Homo sapiens: one gene and its partner. The protein of the gene in region 1 purifies or fractionates together with the protein of each later gene. This does not show direct contact. Each region holds a gene or a part of one and is shown on either strand. Other genes may lie near its edges.

The links. The genes of interacting proteins can lie anywhere in the genome.
Region 2: the proteins of ITPKB (region 1) and ESF1 purify together in Homo sapiens (affinity purification with mass spectrometry; one large-scale study listed by BioGRID and IntAct). This does not show direct contact.

What each region holds. Positions count from the first base shown.
Region 1 is NC_000001.11:226,631,137-226,635,009, forward strand, and holds the end of ITPKB (inositol-trisphosphate 3-kinase B), read right to left. Parts: intron 3,751-3,873; coding exon 3,535-3,750; 3' UTR 554-3,534; downstream 1-553. UniProt on the Homo sapiens protein: Catalyzes the phosphorylation of 1D-myo-inositol 1,4,5-trisphosphate (InsP3) into 1D-myo-inositol 1,3,4,5-tetrakisphosphate and participates to the regulation of calcium homeostasis.
Region 2 is NC_000020.11:13,774,920-13,778,419, forward strand, and holds part of ESF1 (ESF1 homolog), read right to left. Parts: intron 1,352-3,500; coding exon 954-1,351; intron 352-953; coding exon 238-351; intron 1-237. UniProt on the Homo sapiens protein: May constitute a novel regulatory system for basal transcription. Negatively regulates ABT1.

The DNA.
Region 1 (3,873 bases):
TGGGATCTGGGACAAAAATAAGACAAGCTTTCTGCCCTCCAGACACTGCTCCCCACACCCCCCCACTGCCAGTTAGGAGGACGACAAAATTGGTTTTCAATCAAGGCACATTCTAGATTCAAATCCCTGCTCCCCACTTAGGTCAAGTTGCTTCATTTAAACCTCAGTTTCCTCATCTGTAAAACAGACTATAAATCTTTGTTCAGGGAATTGATCTGGGTAAAACGGGAACTCCGATGGGCGTGTTCAGCCCCAGTCTAGCTTAGAGTAAGGCCCCAGAAGCGATCGCTGCACCGGAGACCCCCCTACTTGGGGACAGTGCTTCTTGGTTGATGTTCTAGTCTCTGAGCTACTATTTCAAAGTTTCATGAGGGTTGAAAAGACTCATTTTGGAGAGTGGTTTATATTCTTTACAAATTAAAATGTTACCCAGTCTGACACCCACTCCCCTAACAGCCCCCATGTGGGCCCTCTAGCTTCCTAAGACTCCCCAGCCTGCCCCTCAGCCAGGTCTCAGGGCTGGGGGCCAGAAGGATCACACCACAGACAGCGCTGGTCTCCAAGGCTTTATTCAGGAAGGTTTGCATCTGTTTGACAGGCACTGTGCAGGGGTTTGTAACAGTTCAGTTTTCTCCAAGGTCCCATGGGGAGAGGGGTGCAGAACAGGAAGAGAGCCTCTCGGCAGGCGGGGGGGGTCCTCTCCTCCAGAACAAAAGGCACTGACGAGGTGACCACCCCAGAGCCAGGGGCTGGGTTATATACACATGGGGTGGACAGATGCAGAGAAACTCAAAGCTAAATACAACTGAAGGATGAAAGAGTCCATCTTACAGGGCCAGGGCTGCTTCTGGGCTCTTTCTACCAAGTGGGAAAGGAAGTTCAAAACAAAGGCAAAGCTTTCAAGGAGAAACAAGAGTCCAGCCTTTCGGTCTTAGTGTTCTGTGCAATTTTAAAACCCAACAAAATAAATATAACTTAAAAATGTCTTACATGACACTAAAGGCAAGCCTGGGAAAAGCAAGCAGTTGAAGAAACCTTCCGAGAATGCTAAGCAGTGCTGAATGCCAGGAACTCGTGGGGCCCCCCGCAGGACAGGGCAAGAGGACCCTGCGCCCATTCACCTGGGCACAGGTACACAGAGTTTGTCCTGCCTGCTGGCACATGCACTGCCAGGACCCAAGGAGTCCCTGTGGTGACGAGGGCTGGGCAGGCACGGTCTTCCAGGCTGCCAGGGCAGGGGTTCTGGGAGATTCCATTTCACAATCCATCTATCCCACTGAGACAAAGGGAAGGGCCAGATGGCAGGGAAGCGAGTGGCAAAATGGCTTGAGAGACAGAGTAGGTGTAGAAGAGAACTAGCACGGTAAATACAAAAAAAGAGAAAAAAAAAACAGAAAACAAAAACCCTAAGTAACAGAATAACCCTAAAATGATGCTACTTCATACTATGTTCACATATTTAATGTAACCCACAGCCAAGTATTGCCAATAAGAGGCCCCATGGGCCTCCTTTAATAAGCACATCATTTGCATATTAGCACATTGTTTGCAAACAGCTGGTGTCTGCCTAAAGTGCTTGGAACATTTTGTTCTCTTAAACAGGTCCCCTGTAATTTTTGTTCATATCATGATTTGCTTTAGCAAACTTCTTTCACAGATGGAGTAAGGATAACTTTTGGCCAGTCCATATTCATAGAATCTTTACGTCTGAATTAATGATGCCCCTGCCCTGCAAATGGCTGAAGCACAGACCACCAGGGTCCCTTCTAGCCCAAAAGTCACTATAGCTCCAGAGGCCCAGAGTTGACTTTGGCTCCCCAACGCCCCCGTCCTGCCTGCCTTCCAGATCACATGCTGCCACGAGGTCTCTCGTGCTCCACCGGGCGCGTGTGTGACCTTTAGCAAGTCGGCCCACACAGGAGCTCACCACTGTTTTAAACAAGAGCCAGGAAGTGTAAGTTGATTTCCTTTTTTAAAATCTGTACTTATACATCCTCATGTGTCCCACCCTCCACCCCCAGCAAGTGTCACTCACACTTCCAGCACAAAAGGGGAAATGTACATGTCCCGTGGGCAGGTTGACAGTTCCCCAGAGACCCCGGGGTGGTGGGGTGGGCAGTGGTTCCTCCAGACACACACACCTTGGTCCATAGTCTCCCTCTGTGTCCCTAGCTCCTGGACTCTCCCAGCTCCTGTACCTCTGACAGCAAAGGAGTGGGTGGCAAGCCCCAAGGAGCATGGGGCACAGAGCTGGGGGTTTTGTTCTTAAGAAGTCAGGCAAATTTTACATTCCCTTCCATATCAGACTCACTGGCTTTCAGTTAAAATTGGGCTTAAATAGGTTCTCCACGAATCTCCAAATGCAGAGACTTCAGGAAGAGGTGCCTGGAGCACGCCCTGGCATCCACCACATACCCTACAAGATACCCACACTACATTGGAGAAGCAGGAATCTAAGCCCTCCAGGCAGTAAGGCTTGTTTCAGAGGCAATAACAAATGATGCCAGGAGGCCACCGCGGCACCTCTGGAAGCCAGAAGCCTGCCTTCTTCCTGCCTGGCGCAGACCTGAGCTCCTCCCCTATTTCTATATCTGCAAGGGACTCTGGGCCCCATGACAGGAGCCCATGTATGCAGGCAGGGTTGACCAACTAGCACCAGGTAGGTGAGGGTCAAGAAAAATGTGCTCCTCCCTGGGGCCAGGGCCCAGAGACTCTATAGATCCCATCTTCCCCTGGTAGCACCCTTGGAGCTCAGCATGGCAGAGTGTGCCTTCTGAACTCATGGGTTGCAATTCCAAGTGGCACAGCTTCTGCTCGCCTCCTCTGGGAAGGCCTAGATCAGAGAACACAGCCAAGCTGGCTTCAGCCTTCTCTTGGCTCCTGGGTCTGGCCTGGAGCCGGCAGGTTTCCATACCAGATGGGTGGGGGGCCTTGCCTGAGCAGCCCTGGAGAGGCCACCAGGGCATCCCTGAGGCTGCTAATCGGAAGACACTTTGCTCACAGTCAACATGTGGTTCCCCGATGGTTTTGTGCCCCAACTACCAGAAAGCCCTGCTCCCAGCCAGGGACCAGGAACCCGGCCGGCCCCCTGGGCTCTCCGGTGGGGAGGCCCCGGCAGAAATAAGGCTGTGCTTGGCAGCACTCTAACAGCACTGGCCGCCAGGGGGCAGCAGGCCTCCGCAGGTGGTAGGTCCAGGCTGGTGCTTCCTAGGGGGCTCCCAGAGGCAGGGCTCATCTGGTAGGGTCCCCTCAGCAGCCAGGGACCCCCTCCAGCTCTACACCTGACCCACCTCTAAGACTGGGCATTTCTCTTCTAGTAGGTGACCCTCTCTACAAAAAGCAGTGCAAACACCACCTCCAAGCCCTGAAGTTAGGAAAATGACTAGAAACTCTCATCTCCTCTTCTACAAAGTGTCTTGTAGTGCAGTTCAGGAGGGTCAGTCAGGTGTAAGTGAAGGAAAAGTTAGGAACGAGAAAGGAAGCACAGGAGGAGGAAAGGAGGCCCAGGCGGGGGCCAGGGAGGGCGTGGGCAGCTCAGGCGAGTGGGGCATCCTGGGACATCTCGGTCAGGATGTCGACGAGGTTATTGAGCCCCGAGAGGTAGCCATCCTCCCGGTTCCCCTCCTGCCAGGGGACGTCATGCTGCAGGGTCTGGCCCTCAGGCAGGGGCGTGGTTTTCCCAAAGTCGATCATCCACACTTTGGCCTGTTCCTTCTTGTCGTGGATGAAGAGGAGGGAGCTGCCAATGACCTGAGGAGAACATGGGGGTGAAGGGTGAGCTGAAGCCCGGGCCTCGCCCTCCCCACTGCGGCCCGGGGCCTGGGTGACCAGGTGGGGAGGCTCGCTCAGGCCGGACAGTTGGGTGCCTGCAAT
Region 2 (3,500 bases), on another chromosome or scaffold:
GCTTTTATTTCTTTGGATTTTTAATGTGTAAACAATCATATAACCTATCAATAATAATAATTTCACCTCTTCCTTTCTAACATTTATACCTGTTACATAAGTTTCACACTCAATTGGATTGGACAACTTCCACAGTATTTTCCTAAAAAGGAAAACTATGGCCAAAAAAAAAAAAAAAAATCAGATTTAACTTAAAATGCCTAGAAATATTTATTTCAAAATGAAATCAATTCTCACCTTGACGGAAAATATTACACCTCCTTTGGGTTTAAATGAATTGAACAGAGCCAGCAAATCTTTTGCCTTTAATCTATCCCAGTCCATGTTACAAACTGCTAATCGACGTGTAATCTGAGAAATGAGAAGAATTAAATAGTACATAATCCATATCATTCTCAATACTTGAAAAATAAAGATTCTAAAAATGTAATGCCTTCTGTCCCCTATGCTCTGAAATTAATAGTACAGGAGTTATCTAAGCGTAATTCAGTATATAAAAGAGAACTTCAAATGAGCCAAACAATAGTAAAACCATAACAGGTAAGTACTTTCTCTTACTTGGTTCTTAATTCTTAAATCAGAACATGATCATGAGCTGATTTTTTAACCACCAAGTTTGTTCAGCTATTTTGCCATGCATGCATGAGTAAGGAAGTTGAGTATGTTACCCTGCAACATTTCTTTTGGGTGCCGTACAAACAGAAATACAAACTACTAGCTAAAACAAGTATTAAAAATTTCATGCAACTTTTAATTATTTATGTAGAGCCTCTTCTTATCTGCTTGGACGTCTTCTAGTTCATATAATTATATTCCATATCAAATTTTAATCAGAATCATAAAGAATACTATTACCAATAAGCTTTTCCCACTTAATGACATCAGTTCTACCAGCCATAAAAGCTGCTTGTACTGTGTTTTTCACAAATAATCTTGTTTATTCAAAAGGTTACCTCATCAGCACGAGGAGCATCTTTATCTAATTCTCTCCAAGCATGCTCAAAACCAGATTCTTCTGGAAACAAATCTGCCGTATCATCTTCATCTTCAGAACTAGTTTCTATATTTCCTTTACCCCTTGCAAGATCAGGGCCACTGTCACTTTTATCATCATCCTCACTATCCTCATCTTCATCCTCCTCTTCATCTTCATCCTCCTCTTCATCATCTTCACTTCCATCGTCATCACCTGAAGCTCTACCAACACTTGTAATTTCATTTTCAGATTCCTCATCACTTCCTATTTCACTAACGCTTTCTGAATCTTCCTCCAGAGCATCTTTGTCACACATTTCACCATCTGTTGAGTTTTCATAACCATCACTGTCTCTTGTCATTATGAGTTGAACCACTGCAAAATGTTAAAGGGGAAAGAAATTAAGAAAAGATATATGCTGAATTAAACTGAATCCAAATTATCTTGACATCAACTCCAGTAAAAATATAATTTCTATGAAACACAGTAAAGACAAATATATATTCAGTAAATGCTTAGTCAATTTTTATGATAGAAATCCTAACCATAACTTCTATGAAACAGAGTAAAGGAAAATACACTTAACCAAGTTATTTAATGGAAATCCTAACACATGCTCACATCACGCAAGTAGATCCAGACATTCATTCAATACTTAACAGTGTGCCTGCTACGTGCTAAGTGCTCAATATACAACAGTTGGTAAAAGAGAAGCAAACAGTGCTCTCAGTGAAACTTCTAGCTGAGTGAAAAGAATACATGGATATCAAATAAAATCAATATATAGGAAAAGTTAAAATCACAACTAAGATATCCCAGAAAGAATGTTTTCTAAGGGGATTTAATGGGGTCCCTAAGTGAGTGATAACTGAGCTGTTACTTGAAGGATGAACAGGAGTTAAATAGTCAAAGTTAGACTAATAGATGGAAATTTGTTTGAAAGAGCAAGGAAGGTACCTGTAAAAATCTGCCAATAGGAAAAAGCCAACCATCATGTCCAGATCACAGATAGCACAGAATCAAGTAACAAATGGAAATGAAGAGTTAAGTAGAGGCCAAGCTATCAAAAAACCATATAGAGAGCTTGGACTTTTTCATAAAAGCAATGGGAAGACACTGCTGTTTTCAAAAAAGAGGATGTCATCTTCTTTTGGATATTGTCATCCTCAGACTTGCATATTGAGGAGATCACCTTGACTATACTGTAGAAAACTGACTTGGGAAAGTAAAGAACAGATGTGAATATAGTAAAGGTAGTACAGTACAAAAAGCAAGAAATGAAGGTAGCACTAAGTTGGGTGGCAGTATGTATGCAGAGATGTACATGGATTTCAGAGTCAGTCAGGAAGTGAAACCAATAATTACCGACTGGAGATTTGACACGGGGACTGGGAGTTTTGGAAGTGTCAAAGATGAGTCATAGCTTCTTAGCTTTCAGAGCTAGTTAGCTAAGAAGATGGAAAGATGAAAAGGGAACACTGGAAATGAACTAGTTTGTTTGGTGGAGGGAAATCATGAGTTCAGTTTTGAATATGTTGAATACGAAGTGCCACTCAGTCATCTAAAAGAAAGTATCAATAATAAGAGTGTACAGCTCAGAGAAGTCTGGGTTGGAGATCAGTGACTCATTCATACGCAGTTGACAACAGAAGCTGTGATGTGGATGAGATCACCTATAAAGACAGAGAAATAATATTTATACTTTTTCTGCCAGGTCTTGAACTTTGTAATCAACTGTCATGATTAGCAATACACCAAGATTGAAAGACTGTTTTTGCTTAAGATGGAAATTTTAGTCCTCACAACTCTGAAAGGGCTCATTTCCTACTTCTAAAGCAATCACAGGCTTCTATCTACTTGGTGTGTAGATATATCTTACGTGTTTTACTCATCTTTAAGTTGGAGCTTATTTTCTGCTTACAGGCTCTAAGTTTGGAAAATTAAAAGCAAATTTAAAAGTTCAAGATTTAGAATGAAATTGGAACTAATTTTCTCTTGGTCCTATAATCTTATAATAGTTATTCACTGACCAAATATTTACTGAGTATCTACTACATACAAAGAATTGAGCTAGGATAAGGGAAAAGAGAGAAGATTTGTAACACGATCTCATGCTCTTGATGGATTCATAAATAAAAGGTAACCATTTACTGATTTATAAATCTATGTTCTCAATCACCATACAGTGAGAGACATCTAAATTTGCCTGCAGAGAGGTATTTATAAAAAGGCTTCACAAAGATACAACTTGACTTGAGACTAACTGAATGAAAAGGCATCTTGTTAGAAGGAAAAGCAGGAAATGGGCTTTTATGTTACCACCACAACGAAGCAGGGATTAATAAAAATAACTAGCCAATAGAAGTGAAAAGCGCCAAAATGAAAGCATTGTCACAGGTTCTATATATGAGATCTGAAAAACACAACATTGAAAGTTACTATGAGGTAAGCAGAATTTACTTTTAAGCAACAAGCTTAGAAATAACATCTTACAGACCCAGTCTATCTAGTATTGCAATATTTC